3 linked regions of the Homo sapiens genome follow. The protein of the gene in region 1 purifies or fractionates together with the protein of each later gene. This does not show direct contact. Each region holds a gene or a part of one and is shown on either strand. Other genes may lie near its edges. The genes, in order: DCPH1, PYGB and UPB1.

What was found.
Region 2: the proteins of DCPH1 (region 1) and PYGB fractionate together in Homo sapiens (co-fractionation; one large-scale study listed by BioGRID). This does not show direct contact.
Region 3: the proteins of DCPH1 (region 1) and UPB1 fractionate together in Homo sapiens (co-fractionation; one large-scale study listed by BioGRID). This does not show direct contact.

Annotation. Positions count from the first base shown.
Region 1 is NC_000006.12:151,462,427-151,466,081, forward strand, and holds part of DCPH1 (damage-control phosphatase ARMT1), read left to right. Parts: intron 1-2,026; coding exon 2,027-2,192; intron 2,193-3,655. UniProt on the Homo sapiens protein: Metal-dependent phosphatase that shows phosphatase activity against several substrates, including fructose-1-phosphate and fructose-6-phosphate.
Region 2 is NC_000020.11:25,271,934-25,275,588, forward strand, and holds part of PYGB (glycogen phosphorylase, brain form), read left to right. Parts: intron 1-2,658; coding exon 2,659-2,790; intron 2,791-3,655. UniProt on the Homo sapiens protein: Glycogen phosphorylase that regulates glycogen mobilization. Phosphorylase is an important allosteric enzyme in carbohydrate metabolism. Enzymes from different sources differ in their regulatory mechanisms and in their natural substrates.
Region 3 is NC_000022.11:24,526,260-24,528,973, reverse strand, and holds the end of UPB1 (beta-ureidopropionase), read right to left. Parts: 3' UTR 584-2,714; downstream 1-583. UniProt on the Homo sapiens protein: Catalyzes a late step in pyrimidine degradation. Converts N-carbamoyl-beta-alanine (3-ureidopropanoate) into beta-alanine, ammonia and carbon dioxide.

The sequences.
Region 1 (3,655 bases):
GATACAGTGTATAGTTTTGTGTCTGGCTTCTTTCACTCATTTTTATGTTTGTGAGACTCATCCATATGTTACAATATAATTATAGATCATTCATTCTCATTGCTTTATAATATTGCATTTTATGAGCATATTACAATCTGTTTACTTCGTTGTGATGGATATTTGAGTACTTTTCAGTTTGGAGTTGTTAGGAAGAATGCTGCTATAAACATTCTGACACTTTTTTGCTGAACATATGTATGAATACATCTGTTGGATATATCCCTCCCTAGAAGTGAATCACTGGGTCATAGTGTGTGTACATACACAGCTTTAGTAGATTCTAAAATAGAAAACATTCTAAAATGAGAATTTATATATAGTTATGTGAGTTTACTCTCTTAAATACGAAAATAAGGCTCATTCTTAATATGAGATGTGACTTTAATGAATGGTTTGTTAATAAAACATTAGAACATGTTTTATTAGAACTTTCTGTAAAGGGCCAGGTAGTAAATCTTTTAGGCATAGGGGCCATGTGGTCTCTGTTGCAGCTGCCGAACCTGCCATTGTCGTGTGAATGCAACCTTAAATAATATGTAAGAATGAGCATGGCTGTGTTCTAAAGAAACTTTATTCAGCGGACACCGAAATTTGAATTTCATGTGTTACAAAATACTACTTTTCTTTCACTTTGTTTTCAGCCATTCAAAAATATAAAAACCACTCTTAGCATGTGAGTCAGACAGAACAGGTGGTGGGCCGGATTGGGTCTGTGCATCCGAATGATTTTTATCCTTTTAAGTCACCTTGAGAGACTGACTGATTTCAGCGGTGCTGCCATTGCTAAAACCATCTTTGAATTATTTGGAACTTCTTTCAGAGCCAGTTTACATGCCTCAAAATGAAAATTAGTCTTCCTGTATTTTTACTCATTTTTGATTAAAAAAAAAGTTTTTATCCAATTTGATCACACACCTCATTCTACTGAAATCACTCCGAGTGACTTTTGGCTGTTTCCAAAAATAAATTGACTCCAAAGGATGAAGATATGTGATCACTGACAGGAGGTTTAATGATGTGCCATAGGTTCTGAAGAAAATTCCTAAAGAGGAATTCCAAAAGTGCTCTGAGCAATGGCAGCGCCCTTGGAATAAGGGTGTAGCTTCCCGAGGTGACTGACTGGCTGGAAGGAGGCAGCCATCATTTGGATGTTTAAATACTGGTATGTTATTTAAAAAAACAAAACAAAACAAATCAAGCCGATTACATCAGTGTTAGATTGTTTTTACCCTAACATGAATGACCCATGGAAAAAGTAGCTAATTTGGAAGACCCAATAATCTGAATGTCTTTTATATTCAATTCAGTAAAGATTATTATATTAGTATTTATATCTCCTTAGTTATGATTTTCTTAGGCCAATATAATATGATTTAATCTCTCACTGGAAAACATGAAGGTGTAGCCATGCCACATATATCACCTTTGGTTAAAGTTGCCCAAAAATACCTAAAATTAGTGATAAAAAATTATCATTCTTCTAAAACTTACAATAGTATTGTCTGATTTATCTTAAGTACTCATTGTATTTCCATCATACTCTGTGTTTCATTCTGTTAATGATTGCTGCATTGTATTCAAATATTCTGTTTATATTCTATACATTTGTTACTGGAACTCTGCCACATCGGTGGTTAAAAAATGTTTGTTGAACTAAAGCAGTTGTCTTGAAATTTATCTTTCTCCTTCTTGTGCCCTGGAATCCCTGCTAGGTAGATAATTATGAGCATAGTCACTATCACTATTTAATATGTCCAGAAAAATACTTGATTTGGGAACTTTTTTGACAATTAAAATGAGTTTGAGAGATTTTTGTGTAATTTGATTATTTAGTATTAAGTTTTTCTAGTTAATTAGATAAATGTTATATCTAGTTTCTGTTAGCACTGATTATTGAGACTGTATGGTGCTATTTTCTTTCAAGAACTGCAGTTATCCAAATGTACAAACTAAAATGTTTCACTTTGTTTTTCTCCTACTTTAGTCCACCAATCGATTACTTTGATGTATTTAAAGAATCAAAAGAGCAAAATTTCTATGGGTCACAGGAATCCATCATTGCTTTATGTACTCACCTGCAACAATTGATAAGAACTATTGAAGACCTAGATGAAAATCAGCTGAAAGATGAGTTTTTTAAACTTCTGCAGGTAAATGTGATCATTAATCTTCTGAGTATGTTTTATTTAAACAGAAAATAAACTGCTATACAGTTAACAAAACATGTAAATATTTTTCTTTGCTATAATTGATGATTTTTTATCTAGTGGTGTTAAAAGATGAAAATCCATTTAATTGCTAGAAATGGGTTTGAAATATTTTTCTGCTCTCACTGGCTATGATTTTAGTGGCAAAGAAGTTATCTGACTTCCTAGCTTCTGTCATACTTGAGAGAATACTTCATAGTAATTTGCTTAGCTTTTGTCATGCTTGAAAGAATTCTTAATAGTAATTTGGTCTCCCAGCTGACTTGGGTGTGTGTTGGCTCTGTGGCTAATTTGTGTTTGGACCTGAGGCCTGTCACTTAATTTCTCTGGGCCTCAGTTTCCTCCTCTGTTCAGTGAGGATAATGTGTACTGTGTAATTTGATGTGAGAATTCAACTAGATGCTTGCATGTGAAGTGCTGAGCACAGAGCCTGGGATACAGCCTGCTGTTAGCATCGGTAGGTGATAATACTCGGGTATTCAGTTGGCCCATTAATACAGTTTCATTACATTTCTTTATCTTGTATTCAGTTTAGTTTTTAATTCATGCAAACATCCTGAAATTTACAACACATTATTAGAATCAGAACTATTAGGAGACGTGGTACACAGCAGTATCCCCAGCCCTCACATTTTCCAGAAAAAGTGAGGAAGACTTTCAAAAAGAAATGTTAGAAAGTGCTATGAAGAGAAATAAAGCAGGAAAAGGGCGTTGGGAATGTTGGAGAAGGGATCAGGGCTGCCAGGGAAGGGTCCATGGAGGCTGAGGCCACAGACCTGAAGGCAGGGAAGGAGTAAGTCAGGTGTATGTCTGCGGAGTACATGGAGAGGTGAGAAAAATTGCAAGGAAACCCTGTAGTTACTGAGAGGTAGCGGGGTGGAAGGGACACAGAACGGCTTGTATTAAATAAATTTTTACTAAAAGTGAAACAGAAGCCATCAGAGGGTTTTGAACAGAGAGGTAATGCTATTTGACTATTTCAAGGAATGTTTCTGAGAATAGACTGCAGGGGCTGAAGGTGGAAATGGGGAGAGCTGGTCTGAAAATGACTTGGGGAGGGAGGTTGGGGCCAAGTTGGTAGCATAAGAGTTAGTGACATCACCAGAGCCTGGGTGTTCTTTGAACATAGAAGCTACAGAACTTGCTAACAGATTATACCTGGAGACGAAGCCCTGGTGAGACCCCGAGGGCAAGCAAAGTCACAAATAAAGGCATATTTTGAGTTCAAAACAAAAATTGTCAGGACATTGTTTTGTTTTTTGAGACAGAGTCTCGCTCTGTTGCCCAGGTTGTAGTGCAGTGGCACGATCTCAGCTCACTGCAACCTCCGTCTCCCGGGTTTAAGCAATTCTCCTGCCTCAGCCTCCTGAGTAGCTGGAATTACAGGCGTATGCCACCACACCTGG
Region 2 (3,655 bases), on another chromosome or scaffold:
TCACTCCCTGACCCCAGTGAGGGGACAGTGTCCTTGGGGTTAGAGGCTGGACTCTGCATAGTACAGTGGCCCTTGGAAGGAGTGAGCCTCGATCTTGAAGCCTCACACTACAGCTAAGTGAGATGGTTGAGACCATGGCCGGGAGGAGGGCGTGGTCTTAAAATGCAACCTCCTCCTCCCTGGCGAGCAGCTCCCTTCCCATGTGCCTCAGAATGAAAGTCACCACTATTCCATTCGGTTAGAAAATGGTTTATTTAATATCATTTGGGGCCTAAAAGTCACAAATAAAGCTGGTCTGGGATTAGAATCAAAAGATTTGTAGCATCAGAATGTACAACCCCAATGAATGTGTGCATGACGGGTAGTAGAGATATCCTTGGGGTGGGAGTGGCAAGGGGGGTTGGGCCTCAACGGCAGGTGCAGCCTCCAGGGCTCGTCCATGGCGTCTGTAAGACTCATGTATCTCACCATGGAGAAATTAACCCAAAACATAAACGCAAGGAGCTGCTGTCCATGACACGCACAGCGATGCGTTTAGTGGGAATGTGGACTCATATCTGCAGCTTGCTTTAAATGCACCCCAAAATCAATGGATTGGTGGACGGAGAAACAACAGACCATTTACAGCACCTAGGTGTGGGTGCATAATGTTTCTGCATGTTTGAAAACGCTCATAATAAAATGTTGGTAAAGAAAAGAAATGGCTAAAAGTAACCTAAAACGGACTCGGATCCATTGCTTGATTTGTGGAGATGCCCTCTGCAACCTTAGAAAGGCGCCTTTCTCCACTGCCTCCGGACAGCTCTGCCCCAGCCCTCCGCGTGCCTGAGCTCCAGGGCAGTCCAGTCCATGCACATGTTGATGCTCTGATTCATTCTGGCCCCCAGCAGTCCCCATGTCACGTGTGGGTTTATAAGGCAGAAGCTCAGAGGCTCCCCTTCGCCTAGCTGGTGTTAGGGTTTCCAGCAGGAAGGTATTGGTGGTGGTTTTTGTTTTACCAGGGAGACATTTTTCCTTCTGGTGGTCCTCGTTCCTGTAACTCTTGCAACTTTGTGTGATAGTTTAGGATGATCAGTAAGTGAAGCTCACCCCTCCTCCCATCCCCTTTTCATGGGAACTGTTCAGATTCAGTGGGTTTTTAGTTGGCTTTAGCCATGGAAGAAGTAAATACAGGCAGGGTTGGCCAGCAGCATGTGGCCAGAGGGGCCGCAGGCCAGCCTGCTTGGCACCCTGGCCAAGGGGGCAGGGAGGCCCTGCAAGGGAGACTCAGGCTGCCTTTGTATGTGGGAAGCTGTTGCTTCTGCCGACGACTCCTGGACTAACTCTGCAGATGGCCAGGCCCTGGTGTTGGGGAATCTCACAGCGGACAAGGAGACGCCACCAGAAGGGTCTTGCTGGGAGTACCATGGGGAGGTGCCTGCTGTGCGGAGGGGCCTGCTGTGCGGAGGGGCCTCCGGAAGAGCACAGCCCAGACAGTCTTGCTCGTGACTCTTGGCGTCTGTGTAGGAACCATGAAGAGGAAATCCCTCAGTGTAGCATACTAGGGCTGCCTGTTCATTCTGAAGAGAAGAGACTTGATCTCATTTCAGTTTTAGTAATTGAGACTTCAGAATCCGCCCTTGCTGCTGTACCAGATGGAGTTACTCTGTCACGTGGTGGTAAAGCAGCCCCCTAGTGCTTCTGTGCAAGGGTGGCTCGAATCTGCAGGGCCGCTTTTAGTGTGGGGGTTGGTTTCATGTAGTTACTCGTCTCTAGTGCCACTGGGCACAGATTCTGGGAATAAGCTTCTTCTTGGAAGCCCTCCCGGAACAGCTTGTCTTCCTGGGTGCATCCAGGGCGTCCTCACTGCCAGCTGCCAACTTGGCCCCAGCACTTGCGGATTTGCAGTGTCACTTTCTTTCTTTTTTAATTTTAATTTAATAATTTTTTTTTAGAGATAGGTCCTGCCCTGTCGCCCAGGCTGGAGTGCAGTGGTACAGTCATAGCTCACTGCAGCTTCGACCTTGTGGGCTGAAGCGATCCTCCCACCCTGGCTTCCCAGAGTGCTGGGACTGTAGGCGTGAGCCTCCGCCTGGCCAGTGTGTCCCCGTCAAAGCAATGTCTTCTAGTGATTCTTCTATAACAGCTTTATTGAAATAGAGAGTCGATTTCAGTATATTCAGAGTTGGATAACCGTCCCCACTGTCTATCTTGAGAACATTTTCATCCCTCCAGAAAGAAGCCCTGCACCAATTTGCAGTCACACCCAGCCCCTGACAGCCTCTCACCCGCTTTCTGTCTCTGTGCAGGTGCTTGTTCTGAACATTTTCCTGTAAATAGCCTCGTGTGATGCGTGGTATTTTTGTCTGTCCTCTTTCACTGAGTGTAGGTTTTTCAAGCTCCATCCAGATCGGAGCATGTGTCAGTCAGTGGTTCTTAGTGTCTTTCTTTTTGGGCACGTGTTTCTAAATTTTGAGTTTGTTACTTTAGTGTCCACTGTGTTCATTTTACCCACGTGGGCTTCGCCAGAAGTGGGAATCCCGACCTGGTAAGTGGCTGTAGGTAAATTTCAGTGCCAGGCACTGTGTGATCTCGACCGCACGGTCTGCTGGGTCCAGGACAGGGCGGTGGCCTGGGACATCTGCGCTGAGGGTGCCCTCACAGCTGGCTTCTTTCCAGGTAGAGGAGGCCGATGACTGGCTGCGCTACGGCAACCCCTGGGAGAAAGCGCGGCCTGAGTATATGCTTCCCGTGCACTTCTACGGACGCGTGGAGCACACCCCCGACGGCGTGAAGTGGCTGGACACACAGGTACCTGGGCTGAAATGTCTGCGGGCAAGGCTGGAGCCAGGTGAGGGGGCTGCTGCGGCTCATTTGTAGACAGCTCAGCTTCTTTTGGCTTGGGGGGCTTGCTGCCTCCCTGGAGGACTTAAGGTAAAAGCCGGGGGAGGTTTATTCTCCTCACTCCCCAGTCTCTTACACTTTGATGGGAGCTTCCCAAACAGTGGAAGCGCTGAGCACAGCAGCGAGACTCCATGGGGGAAGCCCCGCTGGGCAGGAGCTGTGTGTTGGGGCTAAGAATGCAGCTGGGCGTCCACTCACAGCCAGATGCTCACGAGAACCCCGCTGCTTAAGGGCAGGCAGGAGGGTGTTCTGATGGGATGGGGGCACGGACCCCCAGGGTGGGCGAAAACAGCTCCCACTATCTCTGTGGAGCACACGACAAGCTCGCTTGGCCTCCTGGCGCCATACGTGGCCCATGGCTCTCAAAGCGTCAACTGTCAGAGCCCCTGGAGTGTGTGCGAGGCCTGGGTGACATCCGGGGATGGGGCCAGGCCCTCCTGCCCAGCAGGGTGCTGATGGGGAATCAGGGCAAGAGCCTAGAGTGCTCGGCAGCGACGGGTGCCAGGCACGCAGAGGCCACGTGAGGGAGCACCCAGTCCAGGCTCCGGGCAGCTGTAAGCCGGGATGACTGGGGCAGGGCAGGGGCTGGCAGGAGAGGCTGCAGGAGAACGTGGGGGCATCGGTGAGACTCAGCCACCTGTGATGGAGAAGGACGGGCAATAACAGGAGAGCCTGGAGGCTGGGTGGTCACTGGTGTGCAGAGGGAGTTGTCTTGACTTTGTAGGACACAGTTTTAAATCAAATACATGGGCTTCGAGTGGCTGGGGCCATG
Region 3 (2,714 bases), on another chromosome or scaffold:
ACTTTCAACTACTGATTTCTAGTTTTGTTCCATTGTGATGGGAAAATACACTTTTATGATTTTAATCTTTAAGTTTACTGGGAATTTTTTGTGGTCTAATACGTGGTCTGGTTTATATTTAATAATGCCTTAGCCCTTTTTTTCCTATTAATTTTTTTTAAATTTTATAGAGACAAGGTCTATGTTGTCCAGGCTGGTCTTCAACTCCTGAGCTCAAGTGATCCCCCTGTCTCAGCCTCCCAAAGTGCTGGGATTACAGATGTGAGCCACTGTGCACAGCCTCCTTTTTTTCTTTTGGGCACACTGAAGTTCACCTACTCCACCCCAGATTCCGGCAATAAAGCTATAGCCTGGCAGGAAGGTGGCCTTCCAGAACTGAGAATTTCTAGGGAGAAATTCTTGAGCCCAGCCACCTGTTATCTTACCGGTGAGAAAACTGAGGGGTCAGAAGGCTTCATCCAAGATTGCACAGGGGCCCACAGGCCTGCAGGCCATGTACACTGAACCACTGCAATTTCTTGTCTGAGAGACTGCCCTGTAGCATCAGCAATGATCACCAGGAAGCAAAAACCTCCACCACAGATTCATTCAAATGTTTACTGAGCATCTGCATGTTCCAGGGATGAGTTAAACCTTGAAATGACCTTGGCTGTACAGGGCCTGCATACTCTAAGATGGGCCTGACTGTTCTGTTTCCAGGCAATGAGAGTTGCAGATAATCAAAGAGTTGTGGTCCATTTATTCATGCCTGTTTCACAAATGTACCAATTTGTCACCTAAGCTGGCTTCTGTATTAGGTTGATTACACCCTCTAGAAACCAAAAACACTAAGGTGTTTTGTTTTGTTTTGTTTTTTGAGACGGAGTCTCACTCTGTCGCCAAGCTGGAGTGCAGTGGTGTGATCTCGGCTCACTGCAACCTCCGCCTCCCGGGTTCAAGTGATTCTCCTCCCTCAGCCTGCTGAGTACCTGGGACTACAGGCGTGCGCCACCATACCCAGCTAATTTTTGTATTTTTAGTAGAGATGGGGTTTCACCATGTTGGCCAGGATGGTTTCCATCTCTTGACCTTGTGATCTGCCCGCCTTGGCTGACACTAAATTTTGAAAGCTAAAGGAACAGGCAAAAAAGCTCACTGTGTCTGTAGGACTGGAATTTTTTTTTTTTTTTTTTAAAGGTGCAAGAAGGGCCATTAGGTAAAGTGAAAACCTGCAGCACAGAGAGTTCAAGGAAGTTACCGCAGAGCTGTGGCCAGGCAGCTCCATCAGGGTTTCTCATCCTTGGTGGCTGTCCAGGAGTACCCTAGCCCTGACATGGAGGTTTCCATATAGTTCAGCTGCTGGGCCAGTGAAGGGATGAAGCTGCCTTCTCTGGCTGCCTTCTCTGATTGGGAACAATAAGCGGGGAATTACAGAATCTCAACCCCACCTCCAACCCGATACTCTGGTTAACTGCTATTTGAGACTTGGCAGGTTGGGCTCTTGCCGTGTTGTTCAGGGACAGGGCTAAATAGGCGCTGCACTGATAACTGCCAAGGGGCTCCCTGGCCCATCTAGTCTGTCTCTTACCAGTGTCTTGACATAAAGCAGGAATATGGTCCCCACCCCTTTTTTTTTTTGGAGATAGGCTCTCACTCTGTTGTCCAGGCTGGAGCACAGTGGCGTGATCTCAGCTCACTGCAGCCTTTGCCTCCCAGATTCAAGCAATTCTCATACCTCAGCCTGCTGAGTAGCTGGGATTATAGGCATGCGCCACCATGCCCAGCTAATTTTTGTATTTTTAGTAGAGACGGGGTTTCGCCGTGTTGGCCAGGCTGGTCTTGAACTCCTGACCTCAAGTGATCCACCTGCCTTGGCTTCCCAAAGTGCTGGGATCACAGGCATAAGCCACCCCACCACACCTGGCCCAGTCCCATTTTACAGATGTAAAAACCAAGGTGTAGAGAAGTGAGTAATCTGATGTGTAAAATGGAGCTCAACCACATTAGCAGAACTAGCAGAATTAGTAGGTGATGGATAGAGATATAAAAGGATTTAGTGCAACAAATTACCTTCTATGATGATGGAATCTGGTCAGGCAAGTCTGATATCCACAGGACAAGCCATCAGAAAGGGCAGGCTGGAACTCTGGGCACAAACTGATGGCTGATGGCTAGTCTCGCACATAAATAACTATTGCTGCACCATGCCATGGACTACCAACTACCCTCTTTACCCTGACTCTATGGAAATAGAGTCATTGATGCCTTTAAGTTCAATCAAACTAGGGAAGAATTCTAAAAAAATCCAGAACCAATGCAGAAAACTCATCTTTAAGATTCTATTTTTCTAGAACCACTTTTGGCACCAAAATCTGTATCAGTCAGATTCAACTAGAGAAGCAGAACCAGTAGGGGATATATTGAGATTTATTGCAAGGAATTGACTTCAGTGATTGTAGGAGCTGGCTAGTCATGTCTAAACTCTGTGAGGCAGGCTATCAGAAGGGCAGACTGTCAGGAACTCTCGCCAAGCACTGGGCTGCTGTCCTCAGGCAGAATTTCTTCCTCAGGGAAACCCTTAGCTCTGTTCTTTAGGCCTTCTGACTAATCAGGTCAGGCTGACCCAGATTATCTGAGATAATCTCACTTACTTAGTCAATTGGGAATGGACTTCTGTCACATCTACAAAATACCTTCACAGAAATACCTAGATTAGTGTCTGATTGAATTACTGG